3 separate regions of the Homo sapiens genome follow, and all the other regions are linked to region 1. The links come from fine-mapping of genetic effects on gene expression. A gene starts in region 1. Each other region holds a variant in brackets. All regions are shown on one strand. Distances are between the middles of the regions.

What was found.
Region 2: its variant is fine-mapped to the expression of IGFBP6 in whole blood (INTERVAL, PIP 0.95).
Region 3: its variant is fine-mapped to the expression of IGFBP6 in blood mononuclear cells (TOPMed, PIP above 0.99). The same link has a PIP of 0.9 or more in whole blood.

The regions. Positions count from the first base shown.
Region 1 is chr12:53,092,680-53,100,290 of GRCh38, reverse strand. IGFBP6 (insulin like growth factor binding protein 6) reads right to left here and starts at 2,624. Exons shown (of 4, transcript NM_002178.3): 1 at 2,240-2,624. The coding sequence starts at 2,573. RefSeq lists silencers at 604-819, 2,107-2,226, 2,237-2,316.
Region 2 is chr12:53,005,396-53,013,148 of GRCh38, reverse strand. EIF4B (eukaryotic translation initiation factor 4B) reads right to left here and starts at 6,693. Exons shown (of 15, transcript NM_001417.7): 1 at 6,653-6,693. The coding sequence starts at 6,665. RefSeq lists enhancers at 5,835-6,578, 6,579-7,322. The variant T/C (reference allele first, on the strand shown) is at 3,928.
Region 3 is chr12:53,066,363-53,073,485 of GRCh38, reverse strand. It overlaps SPRYD3 (SPRY domain containing 3), which reads left to right. Exons shown (of 11, transcript NM_032840.3): 6 at 15-200; 7 at 5,182-5,331; 8 at 5,781-5,838; 9 at 6,794-6,913; 10 at 7,000-7,123. Among named protein-coding and RNA genes, the nearest start is that of SPRYD3, 9.5 kb to the left of the region's middle. RefSeq lists enhancers at 603-1,103, 927-1,221, 1,104-1,604, 7,046-7,123. The variant T/C (reference allele first, on the strand shown) is at 4,674.

The DNA.
Region 1 (7,611 bases):
CTACTTGAGAGGCTGAGGCAGGAGGACTGCTTGAGCCCCAGAAGTCAAGACTGCAGTGAGCCATGATTGTGCTACTGCACTTCAGCCTGGACAACCGAGTGAGACCCTGTCTCAAAAATAAATAAATTATTGGCTGGGCGCAGTGGCTCATGCCTGTCATCCCAGCACTTTGGGAGGCCAAGGTGGGCAGATCACTTGAGGTCAGGCGTTCGAGACCAGCCTGGCCAACATGGTGAAACCCCGTCTCCACTAAAAATACAAAAATTAGCCTGGCATGGTATCAGGCTCCTGTAGTCCCAGCTACTCCGGAGGCTGAGACAGGAGAATCGCTTGAACTCGGGGGGGCGGAGGTTGCAGTGAGACGCTGGACCACTGTACTCCAGCCTGGGCAACAGAGTGAGACTTTGTCTCAAAATAAATAAATACTTTTTAAAATTAATTAATTACTTAATTAAAAAAAATTAACTACTTAATTTTAAAAAATTAATTAATTACTTAATTTTAAAAAATTAACTAATTACTTAATTTTAAAAAATTAACTAATTTAAAAATCAATCAATTAATTACAATAAATAATAAAATAAATGAAAAAATGGAGAACAAATTCAAAGGACTATTTGGGGCTTTGGGCTTTGGGTGAAAAGACCTGGCTGTTCCACCAGAGGCCAGAAGGGGGCGCACGAAGCCGGAGAGCTGGGGCAGAAGAGCAACGGATGTAGGAGGGGGGCCAACAGGGACCCAAAAGGAATGTGTGTCCCTGCTGTGACCTTGCTATGACTCAACCCACCCCTCCCAGGCCTGAGATGTGGTTACTTCTGGGGCACTGCAGTGGGAACCTCTCCCTTCTGGTACCCTGTGACCCAGGCCAGCTCAACCCCAGTGGTCCCAGGAGCACATGGATTCAACCCTTAACCAAGATAGGCTGAGGGCAGATTAAGAAGGTGCAAGGAATGAGGGGCTTCCAACCTGCAGGTTGCTCCTGGCTCTGGAGAAAGTTTCCGGAGGGTCCGGGGAGAGCTCAGGACTGGGAAGGGGTGAGGAAATAAGTCAGGGACAGGAAAAGGCAGAAAGGGGAGCATGTACTGACTGCTTGGAATTTGCCTAACATCTAATCAGATATCAGAACCCCTGAAGGGATCCTCTTCCTCTGTGCCTAAAGACAAGCTCCCAGCTAACTACCACTCACAACCCAGGAGACATTTCCCCTGCAATCCTGAGTCTGATCCTTCTTCCTCAGGATGCCCACCCCTCCCCAGACCTTCTCCTTCATTCCCTACATTTAGCACCCAACCATTTAGTTCCAAACTGCCTCCTCTCATCCACCCAGACCACCTTTTAGGAGGACGCCCAGAAGCCTGCACTCGGGCATTTGGAACTGAAAGAAACTCCAAGTGAATTCTCCATCCCCTCCCGTGGAAGGAACCCAGAGCCTCTGGGATGCGCAGTTTGCATTTCCTGCCCTCCCCATCTCCCCGCTGCCCCCCATGTTTTCACGGCTGATTCACTTCTGTCCCACCCACCCAGTGACTCAGCTTCTGCTCTCCTCCCTGGAGCAGGGTGGGGTAGGATGGGTGAACGATTCTGAGCAGGTTTAAATCATAACCCTGATTTGGCAGATTCCCTCTTTCCCCTACTCTTTCTCCCCTCTCCCCTAACCTACGCCCTAGCCTGCCCTCAGTCCCTACTCAAGTCTAATACAACCCTGGATTTGGGGCCTCTTCGGTTCTAGACGCCTCCTGTTTAGGTGCTTCGAACACCGGTATTAGGAGGAAAGGAGTCATTTCTCAGTGTGTGCAGAATTTCAGAGTCTGGGGTTCCCCTCCCCTTTTCTCCAAGTGGAAGCTGAGAACAACATTTGGGTCCTTTCCCCAGCTTGGCCGTCTAGGGTTGTAGGAGCTGGGCCTGCTGGAGCCCATGGGATGGCCCTAAAACCCTCCCATTTCTCCCCCTGCCTCCCCCAAGTTCCCACCTGCACGCACACTCCATCAAGGGAAAATAAATGGAGCAAAAAAGAAGGCCGAGAGCGCAGACACCTTCTGCTGTATCACCAGGTCCCCTGGCTGCACCTCAGCTTCCTGCACTTGCCCCTTCTCCCCCACACAAATGTGCCCCCCAAAGTCGGAAGCGTCAAGGGCCAGGGCGGAAAGGCTTGCCGGGCCACCCACTCCCGTCTCCCCAGGACCCTGCCTGGAGGACGCGGGTCTCACGTGGGCGGGGCAGGGGCGGGGCGCGGACTCACCAGCAGGCGCGCGGGCCGGAAGGCAGCGGCCTCGGCCGAGCAGCAGCGCCCGCAAAGGCGCCTCGTCGTCCTTGGGCGGATGGCACTGCAGTCCTGGGGCGCAGTTAGGGGTGTAGACCCCGCACTCCTGCCCCTCCCTCCTGAGACAGCCCTCAGCTTCCGCGCAGCCCTCGGCTGGCGACCCCCCATCCTCCTCCTCCACGCAGCCCCCTGGACAACCCGCCTGCACCCCTTGCCCGCAGCCTGGGCACCGCGCCAAGGCGCCTCCTGGGCTGGCAGCGAGCAGCAGAGCTAGCAGCAGCAGCAGCGGTGGCAGCAGCCTGTGGGGGGTCATGGTCAGGGTTTGTGCCCCGTCCTCTCCTTCCAGAGCAGTCGCAGCGCAGCTGCTGCCCGCCGCCGCCCCTCTGTCTTAAGTAGCCGCCGGCCAGGGGCCGGGCCCTTTAAGAGCCAGGTGAAGGGGGGTGGGGGAGAGGGCAGGGGCATTCCCTAAACTGGGTGGGACTGGAGAGGGCCCCCCCAACCTGGGTCCTCCCCACTCTTCTTTCCCTCTCCCTTTCCAGTTTCTGTTTACTTCCCAAATTGCTCTGATTTTTCTTGCTTTGTTCCCGGGAATCTCGGCCCGGAATTTGGGAGCTGTACAGCTGGCTGGAGGGACTGGAGGGTGGGGAGGAGCGGAAGAAGGGGAGGACGGGAGTGCAATCCACTTAGTGTGTATGTGTAGGACGACGAGGGGCATGCAGGGACCCGGTGGGGAGTGAGAAGACGGGGGCTGAAAGGGAACTGAGAAGAGATGGTGTGTGTGGATCACAAGAGGAGTGGGCAAATGTGGAGGGACAGAGAAAAGATGGAGAGGGTGGATAACGGGGTCTTGGGAAATTCTACTGCTGATGGGAGAAGTAGAACAGGGCAGAGGAGAGGAAGGGCAAAATTGGGAAAGGAGTAAGAGAAAGCACCCTTGAGGTAAGACTATGGAGAAAAGGGGCCCGAGGGGAACCAGACTGGGGTAAGCCAATGGGGGAAGGGCCGGGAGGCAGGGAGGGATACAACTTGAATGAACCGTAGGAGACCCTAGCATTGTGGTGGGCGCATGCGGAGTCTGGAAGGATTGGAGAGGGCTGTGTGCAGGGTGAGAACTGGCTGGGAGGCAGGGAAAGGGGGAAATTGGCAGGTTGAAACTAGAGAGGGAGAGAATTAAAGGAACTCGTATTCGGGATGCTCTTGGGGACAGTGGCCAGAGAGCAGACCCCACCCCCCTCCCCATCCCCGTCCTTCAGGTAAGCTCGCTCCTCCATTCCTCTCCTCTCCCAGAATCCGTTTCCTTCCCTCCCAGTCATCCATGGGGTTTTCTAGATTCATCAGACTGTCTTGTGCCCAGGGGACTTTGGGGAGGGACTACTCAGCATCTTTGCCTACCTACTTGTCCGCCTTCGCTCCAAGGGTCGGGTTCCACCGCTCCCCACCCGCCTTCCCCAGGCAGTGTCCCGCCCATCCCAGGCACTCCTAGCCAGGCCTCACAAGAGAGAGGAAGAGGGATTGTTTCCTTCGGCAACCCACACCCACCCAACTCTGGGTTATGCAACAGGGACCATCTCATTCTTTCCTAAAACAAGGGCTCTGGGCAGTGACTAAGTTTAAATGCTGGGCCCCAAGCAACAATGTCAGCAAGGCCTTCTTGAACTTTTAGGTAAATAGAAATAATACGAACCTCATTGTCAGCACAGCCCGCTTCGCCATGCAACCCTGGGACCCTAGGACATGTGTTTGGAGAATGGTGTTTTCCTGTTTCCCTGAGATACTGATGCAGACTGGAGAGGCAGGGAGGAGAGGGTTGTGGGGCAGCTGATGGGAGAAGCTACTGCTGATGGGAGAAGTAGACCAGGGCAGAGGAGAGGAAGGGCAAAATTGGGAAAGGGGTGAGAGAAAGCACCCCTTCCACCAAGGCTCTTCAACCCCCTGCCACAAGCTCTGACCAAGCTCCCTGGAACCAAGGCTGTCAGAGATGGGTTCCAGAGTACTGGGGTCCTGCTGCACACCCTTTATCACTATTTATTTTGTCCTACACATGGTTCTGGCTAGGGTCTTAGGGTCTTTCTCCTGGACTTCGGGTTGGTGCTCCTGAATAAGATGGAAAGCCTGTGGGAAGTTGGGAAGGGGAAAGAGATGGCTGTGCTCTTGCAGGATCCCAGTGTGGCTCTTTTTTAAATTTAAATTTTATTTTATTTTATTTTAAGTTCTGGGATACATGTGCAGAATGTGCAGGTTTGTTACATAGGTAAACATGTGCCATGTGGTTTGCTGCCCGTCAACCCAACACCTAGGTATTAAGTCCCGCATACATTAGCTATTTGACCTGATGCTCTCCCTCCCCTAGCCCCTACCCCGCCACAGGCCCCAGTGTGTGTTGTTCCCCTCCCTGTGTCCATGTTTTCTCATTGTTTTCAGCCCCCACTTATAAGTGAGAACATGTAGTGTTTGGTTTTCTGTTCCTGTGTTAGTTTGCTGAGAATGATGGCTTCCAGCTTCATCCATGTCCCTGCAGAGGACATTATCACATTCCTTTTTATGGCTGCATAGTATTCCATGCATTTGGGTTGGTTCTATGTCTTTGCTATTGTGAATAGTGCTGCAATAAACATACATGTGCATGTATTTTTATAATAGAATGATTTATATTCCTTTGGGTATATACCCAGTAATGGGATCGTTGGGTCAAATGGTATTTCTGGTCTGGTTCTAGATTTTTTTTTTTTTTGAGGCAGGTTCTCATTTTATTTCCCAGGCTGGAGTGCAGTGACTCCATCACGGCTCACTGTAACCTTGACCTCCTGGGCTCAGAAGATCCTCCCACCTTAGCCTCCCAGGTAGCTGGGACTACAGGCACACACCACCACGCCTGGCTAATTGTATTTTTAGCAGAGAGGGGGTTTCGACATGTTGCCCAGGCTGGTCTGGAACTCCTGGGCTCAAGTGATCCTTCCGCCTTGGCCTCCCAGAGTTCTGGAATTATAGGTGTGAGCCACTGCACCCAGATTGATGTGGCTCTTTAAAGATGTTTGTCATAGTGATTCATGCCTGTAATCCCAGCACTCTGGGAGGCCAAGGTGGGAGGATCAATTGAGCCCAGGAGTTCCAGACCAGCCTGGGCAACATGACCAAGCCCCATCTCTACTAAAAATACAAAATATCAGCCAGATGTGGTGGTGCATGCCTTTAGTCCCAGCTACCTAGGAGGCTAAGGTGGAAGGGATGAGCCAAGATCACACCACTGCACTCCAGCCTGGAACAACCAGAGTGAGACCCTGTCTCAAAGAAAAAAAAAAAAAAAAAAAAAAAAAAAAAAAAAAGGCTGTGCTACTCCTTTGTAGGTTATCGTTCAGAAAAAGCCCAACACTTTGCCAGCTTCTAACATCCACCACTCCCTCCTCAACCCTCCTCAATTTCCAGCCCCCGCTTCCCACGCTGCTACCACTGCCTCAGATTCTCCCTGCCTGCCGCTCCCACCTGCCCAGCTGTTACTTTCTAGATTCTAAGCCCGATTGCACAGTCCAGTTCCACCCACCACCCCAGGATTACACTTCCCTGTTTCCCCCTCCCTCTAGCATGATCCCCAGTTGTATGGCCATCAGCACTGAGGGTCTAACCGGTCTCTTTGCAGACTGAGACGCTTGAACTCTGCCTTCCTGCCATTGGGATGCCCTCTGCCTTAGTACCCAGGGCAGAAATCTGAAGCACATGTTCAGCACTCAGACCAAGAGTGTGGGCCAAGGTACAAAACTGTCGGATTCTGTCTGGCCTTTGTGTGAGAAGGGTTTGCTGAGAAGTTTCTTCCAGGCTGAGGAAAGGCTAAATAGCTTGGGCTATCACTTAAGCTTTTCCATAAACAAACTCTACTGGAACTTCCTCCTCCGCATCTACATTATACCCTGGTTTTCTGATCCTTCATGCTGTGTCTCTCACACTCAACCCGTCCCTCTAAATTCATGGTGCCCCAAGTGCTGACTTCCTTTTGAGAACAAGGGATAAAGGAAGGGGCCTGCCTGGACCATATTCAGCTTTAAATTTGAGACGAGAAACAGTGGCACAGTCCACAGACAGAAAGTCCCAGAGAGGAAGTTCAATGACCACATCACATCATGACATGGCCTAAGGCTGACGTGGGCCTGATGGGAACTACTGTGTAAACCTCAGCTAACCTGCAGCCTCTGTTTTCTGCCATCTCTCCCACACATACCATCCAAACTGGTCCTGCTGAAATGTGCTCCTGATCCCATAATTCTCTTCTCCTCAAGGATTTCGGGGGCACTTTACTTTTTATTTCTTGGTTTTTAAATTTTACTTTAAGTTCTGGGATGTATGTGCAGAATGTGCAGGTTTGTTACATAGGTAAACATGTGCCACAGTGGTTTGCTGCACCTATCAATCCATCACTTATGTATTTATGTTTTTTGTTTTTCGTTTTTTTTGAGACGGAGTCTGGCTCTGTCGCCCAGGTTGGAGTGCAGTGACGCGAACTCGGCTCACTGCAACCTCTGCCTCCTGGGTTCAGGTGATTCTCCTGCCTCAGCCTCCTGAGTAGCTGGGATTACAGCCACGTGCCACCGTGCCCGGCTAATTTTTGTATTTTTAGTAGAGACGAGGTTTCACCATGTTGATCATGCTGGTCTCCAACTCCTGACCTCATGATCTGCCCGCCTCAGCCTCTCAAAATGCTGGGATTACAGGCATAAGCCACCATGCCCAGTCCATATATTTATGTATTAAACCCCACATGCCTTAGCTATTTGATCTGATGCTCTCCCTCCCCTTGCCCCCCGACCCCACAGGTCCCGGTGTGTGTTATTCCTCGATGTCCTCCCCTACCATAGAACCTGTGCTCCACCTGACATTCAGGGTCCCGTAGACAATGACCCTGAAACACACTCTGCTTCAGTTAGCTGGCTGAATCACCTTCCCCAGAACCCCCTGGTAGTTTCTCATCTTGGGGATTGAAATGGGATAAGGGGAAATGAGGATGAGGCATAATTGGTGCTCAGAGATCATTTCTTCCCCTGAACTCCAAGCTTTCAGCTTACAAGGACCCTCCCTTCACTCCCCTCATCACTAGCCACATTCTTTTTTTTTTGAAACAGGGTCTCACTCTGTCACCCAGGCTGGAGTGCAGTGGCTCAGTCACAGCTCACTGCAGCCTCAACCTCATGGGCTCAAGTAATCCTTCCATTTCAGCCTCCAGAGTAGTTGGGACCACAGCCACGCACCACCACATCTGGCTAATTTTTTAATTTTTTAGGCCAGGTGTGCTTACTCACGCCTGTAATCCCAGCACTTTGGGAGGCCGAGGTGGGCAGATCACCTGAGGTCAGGAATTCGAAACC
Region 2 (7,753 bases), 87 kb after region 1:
TCTGCCCTTTAGTCCGATTTGGCTTAAATCAACTTTGTAGATCACAGTTTCTCAACTCTCACCCCTTGACTCCTTTGACAAACAAGTTTCTTCTTTAACGTTATTTGAAATTTCCAAACAAATTAAATATCATGACTAAAAAATATTAAAAGCACTTTTAAATCTTAGAATGTCTTTTCAAATCACAAGTCTCCCCCTCCTCTGATTGCCACCCACTCCCAGGCCCTCTGGTTAAGAAATTACTGTTGGGTGTGGTGGCTCACGCCTGTAATCCCAGCACTTTGGGAGGCCGAGGCGGGTGGATCACGAGGTCAGGAGATCGAGACCATCCTGGCTAACATGGTGAAACCCCGTCTCTACTAAAAATACAAAAAAATTAGCCGGGCATGGTGGCGGGCACCTGTGGTCCTAGCTACTCGGGAGGCTGAGGCAGGAGAATGGCGTGAACCCGGGAGGCGGAGCTTGCAGTGAGCTGAGATCGTGCCACTGCACTCCAGCCTGGGCTACAAAGCGAGACTCCGTCCCCCACAAAAAAAAGAAAAAAAAAAAAAGGAAAAAAAAAAGAAATTACTGTTGGATAAGTCTTTTTTTTTGAGACAGAAATTTTGCTCTTGTTGCCTAGGCTGGAGTGCAATGGTGGAATCTCGGCTCACCGAAACCTCCGCCTCCCGGGTTCAAGCGATTCTCCTGCCTCAGCCTCCCAAGTAGCGAGGATTACCGGCATGCACCACCACACCTGGCTAATTTTGTATTTTTAATAGAGATGGGGTTTCTCCATGTTGGTCAGGCTGGTCTCCAACTCCCAACCCCAGGTGATCTGCCCGCCTCTGTATCCCAAAGTGCTGGGATTACAGGCCTGAGCTACTGCGCCCCACCTGTTAGATGAGTCTTAAAAAAACAGGCTAAAATTCCTTACAAGATCTTCAACTTATTTAACTGTAGCAGCAGCACTGACTCAGTCAAAATATAAGCAGCAGGTTTAAAGGAATTAGCCCTTGGAAAGCAAAATCAATAAACCTAAAGTAGGTGCCCGTGTTTGTTCCACTCCGTTTCATTCCAGTTAACTGAGAAAAGATGTTATCTAAATCCTCCATGCCCTTTGCTCCCTCAATACCTAGGCCCATTACATGTTTAGATTTCAACAGTGTTCCCTCTGCTTTATAAGTAAAGCACTGTTTAATGCTCCAGGTTTATCAATCCTTTGCAATTCAACAATGAACTGGTCCAATTCTTTAATTTTCTCTAAATCTTATGTGAACTGGTTAAAAAGTTAACAAATCAATCACCTCACAAAACAAAACCTGTCCCAATTATTTATACATGGTCTACAGTGGGGAAAACACACCTCCAGCTCTTTATATACCCATACAGGTTTAATAAAAGATCTTAAAAACGGAAATATTGCTAAGTCCAGAAGCCGTTAAACAAGAGACAACACATTCATGGTTTTCTTAATAAACAGGATTTGTTATAATAGATACTAAAATAAATACAGCCTACTTCTTAACTCAGAGTTTCTCTATCTCAGCACTGCTGATATTTTAGCTTAGGTAATTTGTCATGGGGGGATTTTAGCAGTTATCTCTGATTCTGCTCATTAGATGCCAATAGTAATCCCCGATCCCCATTCCACTCTGACAACCAAAAGCGTCTCTGGACACTGCCAAATGCTCTGGGGTGGGATGAGGGTTTGGGATGAAAAGACTGTCCCTTAGCTGAGAACCATGTTCTAAGTGATGTTTCACTTCAATAAATAAAAAGATAAATGAAAAGGAATTGTTAGTCCTATATAAAGGACTTTTCTTTGGGGGTGATAAAAAGGTTCTGAAATTAGATAATAATGATGGTTGAACATCTCTGAATATACTAAACCCCACCAAATCATACAGGGTCTTGCTCTGTCACCCAGGCTGGAGTACAGTAGTGAGATAATGGCTCACTGCAGCCTTGACCTCCAGGGCTTAAGCAATCCTCCCACTGCAGCCTCCCAAGTAGCTGGGACCACAGGTACATGCCACCACCCCTGGCTAATTTTTAAAATTTTTTTTGTAGAGACGTGGTCTCACTATGTTACTTAGGCTGGTCTTGAATTCCTGGGCTTAAGTGATCCTCTTGCCTTGGCATCCCAAAGTGCTGGGATTACAGGAGTGAGCCACTGCACACGGTCCAAACTGTATACTTTAAAAGTGTAAATTTTATGGTATACAAATTACATTGAATAAAGCTGTTACTAAAAGTGAGTTCTGCCACATTCTCCATAATTAAAAGCTACTTTAGGCCAGGTGTGGTGGCTCATGCCTGTAATCCCAGTACTCCGGGAGGCCAAGGTGGGAAGATCACCTGAGGTCGGGAGCTCGAGACCAGCCTGGCCAACATGGTGAAACTCCATCTCTAGAACCGCTTGAACCCAGGAGGTGGAGATTGCAGTGAGCTGAGACCACGCCACTGCACTCCAGCCTGAGCCATAGTGAGACTCTGTCTCAAAACAAAAACAAAAACAAACAAAACAAAAGCTACTTTAAATAATGAATAACAAATGTTTCCCTAAACCAACAACATTGCATAAACACAATCGATCCACCCAGAGTGCCTAGAATTAGACTAATTATATTGGTGTTTACAGCCCAGCCATGAAAAGACATTTCATGCAATGTAATACAATATTTCACCTTCACCTTTACTGCACTATATAGATGCTCCCTGACTTATGATGAGACTGTCAGGATAAACCCTTCTCAAGTAAAAAAATGCATTTACTATCCGGATAAACCCATTGTAAAGTCAAAAAGATCCCAGTGCAAGCCACCTTTTGATTTAGTTGGGGATTGGGTAAGTTTAGCATAGTAAAGACTGAGTCAAAACTCATAAGCTCCACCATCTTGACCCCCGTACGGGTTCAGTTACATGACCTCTCTGTGCCCAATTACTTCATTTTGACAGAAGATGCCATACTACCTTTTCCTTATCCCTCCAGGGATACTCAATTTGATCATATACATAATCAAACAAAATAAGTGCCCAATGCATGCCATGCTAACCATTACACAAAATGGGAGACAGGAGGTACACAAATTCAAGTTAAACTTCTTGATTTGGTACTTTCCCACTATCAGGACCATAGCAGTATCTACTACAAATTTAAGAAACTGGCTCATAAATGTACATAAGGCAAACCTAATTACAAATAATTACTTAAAATACTGTACTCAAGTTCAGTTATTTCCTCTACCATCACGAAAAGAGAATTCCAGAATGTTTTGAGATGAAATATACCTCTTTTTTCAATGACATTACTTAGAAACACTGCTTTATCTTAATTGACACTATTCTGTATTTGTATTTAAACTTTCATAAAGAGTTTTAATTTTGGCCTTCTGGGTATCTTACTCACAGAATAACATATACATGATAGAGGATGGAACTTGACACTAGGGAATCTGTAAGCAATATATAATGGCACCCCTTAAAACCATTTCACTGTGAGAGTCAGCAGTGTATGAAAACAACCACTGCAGAGCATCTTCTCCCTATAAAAATAATCAAATAAGATGTCACACAGGACTGCATTTTGAAGCATTATGGAAATGAAAGGCCTGTGCATGAGCTTACATATGTTATTTCCAATTTTAAAGTTTGTTTTTGTTTTTTTTTTTTGAGACGGAGTCTCGCTCTGTCGCCCAGGCCGGAGGGCAGTGGTGCAATCTCAATTCACTGCAACCTCTGCCTCCTGGATTACAGGCGTGAGCCACCACGCCCAGCCCAAAACCCCGCTAATTTTTGTATTTTTAGTGGAGACTGGGTTTCACCATGTTGGCCAGGCTGGTCTCGAACTCCTGTTCTCAGGTGTTTCACCCACCTCAGCTTCCCAAAGTGCTGGGATTACAGGCATGAGCCACTGCACCCTGCCCAATTTGAAAGCATTTTAAA[T/C]GTTAACCTGTATCAAACGCATTTGATTCCCTCTAGGTAAGGGGACAGCAGATAAATAATGACCACTTTCCAGATAAAGAAACTGAGATTCAAGCGGTAACTGGCTTATTACTGGCAAGTCTACTAAAGTAGTCACAATGAAAATTTAAGAAAAATGAAAAACTTCGTATTTTTAAGATTTTTTTTTGAAATGGAGTCTTGCTCTTTTGCCCAGGCTGGAGTGCAATGGCACAATCTCGGTTCACTGCAATCTCCCCCTCCCAGATTGAAGCGATTCTCCTGCCTCAGCCTCCGGAGTAGCTGGGATTACAAGCACGCGACACCACGCCCAGCTAATTTTTGTATTTTTAGTAGAGACAGAGTTTCACCATGTTGGTCAGGTTGGTCTCCAACTCCTGACCTAGTGATCCGCCCGCCTCGACCTCCCGAAGTGCTGGGATTACAGGCGTGAGCCACCGCGCCCGGCCTTTAAGAATTCTTTTTAAGAAGCAAAGCAAGGAATTAAGTGTACTGGCTCAATGTATCAAGTTTCTAGGAATTCAAACTATCCTCATTCTATAGTTAGTTCTGAGACCTACCTTAGTTCTTGAAGGTCAATAATGGATCACACTGGAAACTGGTATTGCTGCAAAGAATTTTTTGGTCTCATTTAACAGTAAAAGAGGCGTATGAAGTTGTTTTATGTATTTTCACACAGAACACATAACATCCATTTCCCACATCAGGGAATACTGGTTACTTCACAAAGCCAGTGTGACTGGAAAGAGGAGCGGGGAAACAATCCGATAAACCCCAGATTCCTCAAGAACAGACTGAAAGATGTGACTTGTGCTCAGATACCAGTACCAGCTAAAAAGATTTACTGAAGTGAATTAAAGGAGATGAGGGTTTTCAAGGGGGTAGAGTAAATATGGAAGAACAAGAGAATGGGACGTCAGAGTAAATCCCTTTTATCAGTCTGGATTTCCCTCAACTCGGTAAAACGAAGGACATGAATTGCTGTCCTATGTTCCGCCTCTAAAAATTACACAAAAGTTAAGAAAACACAGATTTTCTTCACTAAATTACGATACTAAACTGTTAAGGTGGCAAATCCAGACCAAGTAAGTACTTTAAGCAATGGTTAGTTTAAAATATATTTAGGACTTTTACTAGCCCACTGGAGAAAAAAATATGAACATTTTTGTAAACTTCAGATGCTTTCGGGCAGCGTCCTAAACTGATGATGACACCTTGATACTTTTAAGTTGCTAAGGAGTCTCAAAGATTATGACCTTGCTCTGCCAGCTGAGAGCAGTGTGGCCTTAAATAATATTCCTTAGCTGAGAAATACCACTAGCTCTCTGCAGTACCTCAGGATGGAAGGAGACAACATGCACAAAAGTGCTTGGTCAACTGTCAAGCGTTACACCAATGAAAGATGTTCAAATGCACCTCAAATTTCTCAACATTTTCCAAAGCCAACCAAAACCCTTAGCTTCTTTGTAATAGAGACGATGAATTACTAGGTAAGAAATGAGCACCCAGAGATAGAAGTTCAAATAATGTTTTGAAGAATGCAAGGTCATGCCAGAGAAAACAAACTATATTCCTCAAACTAAAATCAATGCTACAAGATGTTGGGTCATCACTGCTTTTATAAGCCCATTAGAAATGTAATTAGACTTGCAAGGCACTGATACTCCCCTCCAAGGTTGTCTAAAGAAGTAAGCAACTCCAGCCATTAGTAAGCACTATTTTAAAAGTACCTGCTGGTAGTTGCACAGTTACCTTAAAAAAAAAAAAAAAAAAAAAAAAAAAAGGCTGAAATCTACCATTGGAGCTATCCAAATTCAACCAACATGGAAGCGCCGGAAGCGAAACCTGATCCTGGCATATAGCTGCGCTGAGTAAAAAATGCCTCCAATTGAGTATGAGAAAAAAGCCTAGAAGGAAATCTAGGTGCACACCGGTGCTTCTCCAACACGTGGGCGCACCTAACTGGATTCCCCACCCCCATCTAACGCCAATAGCACCAACCTCCAAGGCTAACACACACACCCTTAGAAGAATACAGGCACAGGGCCCACACTCTAGAAAGGGAAGAGACAACCTAAAAGGACATAAGTGCGCAACACAGGCGCGTTAAAAAGCTTCCCATCTGGGTTCTAGCGCACGCATTGAAGGCGCGCCCGTCTCTACTACCCTCGTGTCTCCTACCGCGCACGCGCACCGCTGCCTTCCCCCGCCCCTCCACCAACTCGCGCTCGCGTTCCAACTGCTCCCCCCCACCACACTTACTCCCCTACCCCCCACTCCGGTCCGCTACAGCCTCGCGCCTTGGAGACGTAGTCTAATGTGCACTCGTCCGCGCAGCAACCGCCTCCTTCCTTCCTCCACGCCTTCACGCGGGCACGGTGATTCACGTCTACGAAAAGGCCTCGCACCACCCGCACACCTTTCTGCGCCTCCTTCCCCAATTCAAGCCAGAGTCTACCATTACTGCCTATTCCAATCTCGCGCAGAAAGGGTGAAAAGAGTGTGAGGGGGAGGGGAAGGTGTCCTTCCCCTCCCCCCCAAACATCCAGAGGCAGTAACCTAACAGGGCCACGCCGCCAGCCTGCCGCAGCCCTCAATTCAGAAAGGAACCAGTGCCAGCAATTCCCCGACTTCAGGAAATCAGTGGATCACGCTCGGAGGGGGGTTTCAGAGCCCAGTCCTTGGCCGCGCTCGGCTGCTCGCTCACCTGAGGCCGCCATGTTGGGAGAGGGAAAGAGAACGCAAAAGACCCGGATGAGGCAATCACGTGATTATAGCGGGCGCGTCGAGCTAGGAGACGCGAAGCTGGGAGGGGGCGGGGAGGTGAGGACGGAGACAGGAGGCGGGGCGGCGCTGCTCTAGGTTCGTAAAGCTGCGCGGCGAGGTGGCACGCCGTCCGACGGGAAGACATGCGCGACATGTGGCCAAAGGGGCGGGGCCTGGGTTGTCGCGAAACCCCTCACGCTTTACGTAGGGCTACACGCGAGCGCGGGGCTGGAGCTGAGTCCTGGCCGGCCTCCTGACGCACAGACTTCCTGCCGGAAGAGTGGCGGGAAGGGCGGGGCTTCGCTGCTGCTTCTGCTTACTCTGCACGGAGCCGGTGATGGGTGTGGCGAAATGGATGTGCTGAAAGGGAAGATTCTGAGTTTAATGTACTTTTTTGAGACGGAGTTTCGCTCCTGTTGTCCGGGCTGGAGTGCAATGGCGTGCGCGACCTCGGCTCATTGCAACCCCCGCCTCTCGGGTTCAGGCGATTCACCTGCCTCAGCCTCTGGAGTAGCTGGGATTACAGGCGCCCACCACCATTCGCTGCTAGTTTTTTGTATTTTTAGTAGAAACGGGATATTTCACCATATTGGCCATGCTGGTCTTGAACTCCTGGTCTCAGGCTATCCACCCGCCTCGGCCTCCCAAAGTGCTGGATTATAGGCGTGAGCCACCGCGCCCGGCCTAGTTTTTAAAAGCCACATCAGAAATCACTGATTTTATTTTTATTTATTTTTATTTTTTGAGACGGGGTCTCGCCCTGTCTCCCAAGCTGGAGTGCAGTGGCGCGATCTCGGCTCACTGCAGCCTCAACCTCCGGGGCTCAAGCAGTTCTTCCACCTCAGCCTCCTGAGTAGCTGGGACCACAGGCGAGTGCCTCCAGGACCAGCTAATTAAAAAAAAGTCTTTGTGTGGAGACAGAGTGGCGGGCTTGGGGGGGGCGGTGTGTCTCCCTGTGTCGCCTGGGCTGGTCTCGAACTCCTGGACTCAAGCATTCCTCCCTCCGAGGCCTCCCACAGTGCCGGGATTACAGGCATCAACC
Region 3 (7,123 bases), 27 kb after region 1:
TCCCCCCACTGCAGGTGGGCTCTACCATCATGCCCATGTCCCCAGATGGACTGTTCCCAGCAGTGGGCATGCACTCCCTGGGTGAGGAGGTGCGGCTGCACCTCAACGCTGAGCTGGGCCGTGAGGACGACAGCGTCATGATGGTGGACAGTTACGAGGATGAATGGGGCCGGCTACATGATGTCAGAGTCTGTGGGACTGTAAGTAGCGGGTGGGAGGGTGGGAGGGGCTGGGTCGGAGGAGGCTGGGCAGAACACCTGTGGGCACATGGTCATGTCTGAATTGCTGGGAATGGGGAGTCGGGACAGTGTCCGTGTGGGGTTTGGCAAGATAGCCTAGGCTCTTGACATGAGTCCTTGAGTCCAGATCTGTGTTTTCTTTAGCACATGTTCTCTTTTCTTCACTTCCTCCTCTTCAGGGAACTCAGGTTCGCAGTTTGACCCTGGGAACAAGTAGTTCTGCTTTGCCTTTTTTGGTTCCTTCAGCTTCTGGTGTCTTCTACAGCCCTGCACAACTGCCTTTGAGGGGCTGGGGGTTGATCTGGAGGCAAAATGCCTGGCCCAGGCTTTTCATTCAAAGTGTTGTGGGGCAGGTGTGGTCAGAAGTCCACACATGTGGTGGAAGGTTCTTAGCCATCTTTTTTGAGGAAGTGTCAATGTCAGTTTCTATTGTCTTATCCCTGCATTTGATAGAGGATTAGAATGGAGGCAGATAAAGATTCAGTGAGCATCCTTACACCTCCAAACTTGCTTCATTTATCTTTTCCTCATACCTGCTTTAGTATGGATTTTAAGCTTCGTTGGGAAGCGTGTGGAGCTTGAGAAAGGGGAATTCTTCCTCCCCGGATTTTAAGTTTTGTTGGAAAATTCATGAACCTTGAGAAAGGAAAATTCTTCCTGTCTGCCTCAATACACTGTGCTGCATTGGGAGTGAATGGACGCCAAGTCCGGGATCTGGCCCTGACCTCTAGTGGGCTGCTCAGCCCTCCCACTTCGAATTGTCCCTCTCCTACCCCCTTGCTCCTGGCCTGGCCTTTTTCTCCACCCTCTGGCCTTTCCACCCCAACCCAGGCTGTTTTCAACTCAGTCTTTGATAACAAAACAGAAGCAGTGGGGGGTGGGAGCGGATTAGGAGCCAGGCCTCCCCCTGGTGGAGTGGAACTCAGGGAAAATGACAGGAAGTGTGCCCTCCTGCTGCTTCTGACACTCTGCACCCCCGTCTGGCATCAGGGTCCCAGGCTGCAGCGACCGAGAGCTAAGAGGCCTCAGATGCCCACTCCGTGACTCTCATGTCTTTCCTTTTTCCCCTCAATCTACCATCATTCTGACAACATCTACAGAGTTAAACTTGGGGCTGCGCCAGGGCGATGTTCCAGCTCTCATCTCTGACCTCTCCTCAAGAGTTTTTTCCTGGCATCCTTTCTCTGCCTGGACCTGTCCCCACTCTGCTCTCAGCTCCTCCCAGGCAATCTTTTCTAATTGATGCAGAATCCTGTAGACATTTATAAATAGCCTTCCTTCCTCCCCACCCTCCCCCCAACACCTTCAGCCACTTATTTAAGAGTGTTTTTCTTTTTTAGACATAAGCTGTTGAATTGGGCCCTTCTCTCAGACCCTCACCCCAGCTTGGGCCAGGTGGCAGGGTGGGAGCACTACTCCTGGGGCACCCGTTCCTCTGGGGCCAACTTGGATGTGAGCTTCCTGAGGGACATGTGCCTTTTTCCAGTCATGCCAACTTTCCTTTTTTTTTTTTTTTTTTTTTTAAGACAGGCTATCACTCTGTCACCCAGACTGGAGTGCTGGTTCACTTCAGCCTCCAACTCCCAGGCTCAAGGGATCCTCCCACCTTGGCCTCCCAAATTGCTGGGATTAGAGGCATGAGCCACTGCCCTGGGCCTCAACAGTTGTTAGATTTGAGTCTTTGGATATAGACAGACCTGGCTCTTTCTTGAGTGGAATTCTTCCCCTGCCTCCTGTGGCCTGTTTCCCCCTCCTAAAGAGTCTACCTCCTCAGAGCTCTGAGGGGTTGAGGAATTGCTGGGGCACTTGCCTCTCACCTCATCCCTGCCTCCAGGCCTCGCAAAGTGAGGTAATGTGGTGGAGGGGAGCTGGGGGCGGTAGGTAACAGCTGGGGGATTAGACTCATTCTGTGTTTGTGCCCTGTTCACAGCTCCTCTGACAACTCCTTAGTGACAGGGGCAACAGCTTTGGTACACACAGGGTGGTGAATGAGGCCCCGCCCTCCCAGGGGTCCTCCCCAGACCCAGCCCAGAGGGAGGCTGTGCTGGAGCCTGAGCTGGCCAGGAGAGTGTGTACTTGGTTCCTGTTTCAGTTGCTTCTGGGCCCTCAGGGCACTGAGCCCTTCCTTGCTCCTGTCAAGAGGGATTAGGGTCTCTGCTGGCAAGGGGAGGAGGGCGGATACCGGCAGGGGAGAAGAGGCTGGGAAGGTGCTACTGGTAGAGGGAGGGTGTGGAGTGCACGAGACTGTCCACACTCTGGTCTGCAGCCGCCACTCTGTGGCACTGAGTCATGTCTTTGGCTTCTTGGGGCTTTGGTGGTATGTGTGTATTAGGGGGAGACCCAAAGAAAGGGCTCCATCTTCCCCCACCAAAAATGCAGAGAAACATTTCTGTTGATTGGACATTGTTTGAGAGGAGACACATAGGGTAGAGTTGTCTGGGGAGTGGCCATCGTCCTGGTTGGCCTAAGGGACCATTGTAGTTGGAAGTAAGGGCTAAGATGAAAGATCATTTCCTTCTTTGTGATCGGCAATTCCAACGTAACCCCATTTACACTGATTTAGGGAGAGGCAGCAATGTGTATTGGTCACTTCATTAAGTCTTCCCACTTGTTTTTGGAAATTCAGGTAATCTTATCCCAGTTTACTGTTGAAGAAACCAAGGCTTAAGGAGGTGAATGTCATTTGCCTGAGGTTAGCGGCTGTTAAGTAATAGGAGTTAGGATTTGAACCCAGGTCTGTTGGATTCTGAGGTACAGGTTGAGGGACCAGCATCAAGATCCTAACAGTTCAGACTCTAAGGGTTAACCTTCACTCCTCCTCTAGGTTCCTAACAGCTATAGACCAAGGAGGCAGAGGAATGTACTCAAGAAAGAATCTGTCAGGGAGGCCAAATATTCCCCCCACTTCCACCCCTCTGAGTTCTCTGGGAAGGCTCAGGAGGGGTCGGGGGAGCTTTGTCCAGGAGCAGGAGAGTGGATCAGGAGGTTTATGATGGCTTTCACTGTGAGGGCTGGGCGGTCCCCTCTGAAGAGGGCACGCTGTACAAGCCTCACCTATACACTGTACAAGTACCTAGTCGTCCAGGACATCAGCATTCTGTCCGAAGTGCTCTGTGGTTGGCAGGTAGAGAGTGGGTTTTAAAGACCCATGTTGGGGTAGTCCGTCCTGGCTTTTAGCGTGAGAAAGCACCTCCACCCTATCCAGAGACAGAAATGCAGCAGCTACCCTCTTCTGAGCTGAGGCAAAGGGAGGGGCTGGCCGGGTATTTCCCAAGGATCAGGGTCTGGATCGGCTGTCTTTTGGCTCTGGAAATGGAGAACACTGTGTTTCCTACACCGAGGCCAGTTGGATAGAATGGGTCAAAGGCAGCTGTGGGGTCCCCCACCCAGTTCTGCAATGCTGGGTGGAGAGGGTGGGCTGGGGGCTGCTCTGCCTGGGTGGAGTCTAAACTAGTTAATGTGGATCAAGCCACACCCCTCCTGGCTTCCCGGGGAGAGAGGCAGAGGAGGAACCCAGGCTGAGCAGAGAATACACCATGAACAGAAGTCAAACAGTGTGGCCTTGGGGATGGGCTTAGGTGGTCTCCCGTGCATGCTGCTTTCCCCCTCATCCATCCCCAGTTATCTTTGGAGAGGAGGGAAGGATGGACTTGAGGTGGCGGGGCTGAGATCCAGGGCTGAGAAAGGCACCAAGCCCCTCTAGTCCTACTCTCAGAAGGGGTTAGTAGCACCCCGCTCTAAGCACCTGAGCTAAGCAGCGGCCGTCTGAGGCTGGGAGTGGGGATGCGGGAGCAGCCTCTGCTGGAGACACGCACAGGCTTCTGTGCTGGTGCAGGTGGGCATAATTCCTTTCCTGTTCAGGCAGGAATCTGTGAGAGGTGAGAGGCCGGCGTCCCAAAGCTTGCCAGGGAGACGTGGAGGAGGTCCCTAGGCAACATGTTTCCTTCAGGGCTGCAGGGGTGGGAGGGTAGAAGAAAGTCGTGAGGGGCAGTTGGGCTAATTAAAAGGAGATTAAGGAATCCCAGGTGAGGCCGAAGGTGGGGGAAAGAGGGGATGGGGTTGAGTCATCACCCCACTATTACCATGACAACTGACAAATAAATCCTCCCAGATTGGGGGTTGCCGCCCCGTCGTGCCCAGGCAGGACCATTGTGGGACTGAAGAGCCCCAAGAACCCATCAGTCATCTCCCCTATCCTACCTCCACGCCCCTACTCCAACTTGAATGAGCAATGAGGGGCTGGGAACAGCTAAGCCTGCCTCTGTCTTCATTTTGACCTCTCCTCTCCCTCACATGAAATGAGGGAGTAGAGCTGGGCGTTCTGGGTCCCTGGGCTCCCCTCAGCACCTCCCTGACCCAGCTAAGAACAGCTGTGTTCACAGCCAAGTAAAACAAGGACCTTGAGAAATTATGTCAGGCCCATCCCAGGCAGAA[T/C]TGGCTTCTGAACTCACCCGCTTCCCCTGAATATCTGGGGTTGGCACCTAACTTCTGCATCCTCCCTGTCCCCATTAGGCCCCCTGAGAAAGTCATCAAGTTTCCTCTCAGCTAGTCTTGCTTCTCCTTTCCCCTGTGTTTGGGACCCTGGGCGGACCTTTCCCAGCAGGAAAGGCTGCAGGGTTTTTCAGCGGGCGAGGATGCATCTAGAGCCCCCTGGTGTGCCGCTCCCCTAGCTGTGCTGCTTTCCCCGGCCTCCCAGAAAGTGTGTGGGGGAAGACAGCGTGGGCATTCAGCAAGGGGTGCTCTCCCCTTTGCCTCCCACCCCATCCTGCTCTTCCATGCTGGCCTAGAACTTTGGGGCCACATTGTATCTCTAGGATTCTTTCCCTTTCAGCCAGGAGTTTTTGTCAGACCTGGGAAAGTGGGACCCAGACTGCCTTGGGCCCAGGTTTCCAGGGTGGGTGTCAGCCTGTCCCCTGACCCCCATCTGGCTCTTCCCCCACAGCTGCTGGAGTACTTAGGGAAGGGCAAAAGCATCGTGGATGTGGGGCTGGCCCAGGCCCGGCACCCACTCAGCACCCGCAGCCACTACTTCGAGGTGGAGATCGTGGACCCTGGAGAGAAATGCTACATCGCCCTGGGGCTGGCACGGAAGGTGGGCACAAAGGCTGAGCTTTTTTGCTCATGGAGCTGCTCAGGTCTGGGGCTGTTGGGGCAGCACCAGGAAGCTCTTAGGAGAAACCAGGGGAGCCCAGGCTTTGGAGGGAGGGTGCTAAGCTGAGATGGAACACAGTTGTATGTGTCTGCTGTGTAAGAGTACACACCCCATGTGACCAAGGACCTGAGACAGGTCATGACTGCACCACACACTAAGGCCTGGGGGGAGGGGGTGGGACATGCCATGGCTCTGGCCTTAAAAGCTTAACTAACACTTTCCTCACCCTCCCTGGTTCCCCTGAAGCCCCAGTGCCTGCAGGGTATGAGTGTGCAGGGTTGGCACTCTCTGGGCTGTGGTCTGTCCCAGAGGTTCAGATGCTACTCGCCACTCTCTCCTGTCTTGTTTATGCATGGGACCATAGATTTTCTTTTCTCTTCTTGGTGCAGGACTATCCCAAGAACAGGCACCCTGGCTGGAGCAGAGGGTCTGTGGCTTATCATGCAGGTGAATAGCGGGCTGCCTGGGAAAGGTGGGATGGTGGGAGATGTGGAGGCATAGGGACATCCACTTTCCCCTCTCCTGGCCCCTCACAAATGGCCTTGCTGTTTGCCCTGCTGCTGGCTGACCTCCCCTTCCCAAATCGCTAGTGCTTCCTCCTCATCTGTGTTTTCCTCCCAGCTCTGGAAACCAGGGGAGCAGGACAGGAGAGGGAGATCTGGGCCCAGATGGGACATTCCAGGCCTCTGAGCTGGTCCCCCCGTGCCCTTCCTGCAGACCCTCATTTCCTCATTTTCTTTTTTCTTTTGCTGCTTGGTTTCCTTGGCTTTCTTTAGAAGAAAACTGAGCCTAGAGTTCCTCGACCCACCTCCCCCTGCCTGCCCTCCCTGGGTGTTCATTCCTTCCCTAGGGCCCCCTCCTCTGACTCATTTCCTAAGGGTTCTCCCTTACCCTTACCTTGAGCAGATGGATACTACGTCTCTTTATTTTATTTGGTGCCCCCTTCCCATATATCTCGCTCCAATTTTTTTTTTTTTTTTTTTTTGAGATGGAGTCTCACTCTGTCACCTAGACTGGAGTGCAGTGGCATGATCTTGGCTCACTGCAACCTCTGCCTCCCAGGCTCAAGTGATCCTCCCACCTCAGCCTCCTGAGTAGCTGGGACTACAGACGGGCGCCACCACGCCCAGCTAATTTTTGTATTTTTAGTAGAGATGTTTCGCCATGCTGGCCATGCTGGTCTCAAACTCCTGACTTCAGGTGATCCACCCTCCTTGGCCTCCCAAAGTCCTGGGATTCCAGGCGTGAGCCACCGCGCCCGGCCTCTCTCTCCATCTTTGTTTCCGCCCTGACCCTTCCCTTCCTCTGAGGGGTGGGAAGTGTTCAGCTTCATGAGCCACTCTGGGGGTGTGGTGTCAGCCCTCCTTCCTCAAGTGTTTGTCCTTTCCCCTCCCTCCAACAGACGATGGGAAGATCTTCCATGGCAGTGGTGTGGGGGACCCCTTTGGGCCACGCTGTTACAAAGGGGACATCATGGGCTGTGGAATCATGTTCCCCCGGGACTACATTTTGGACAGTGAGGGTGAGTGGGGTAGGGGTGGCCAGCCAGGCTGCTTGGGGCCGAGGGTGGAAAGGCACCACAGGAGCTCAGGTTTCCTGGTCTCCTAGGGGACAGTGATGACAGTTGTGACACAGTGATCCTGTCTCCGACTGCCCGGGCCGTCCGGAACGTGCGGAATGTCATGTACCTGCACCAGGAAGGGGAAGAGGAAGAGGAGGAAGAGGAAGAGGA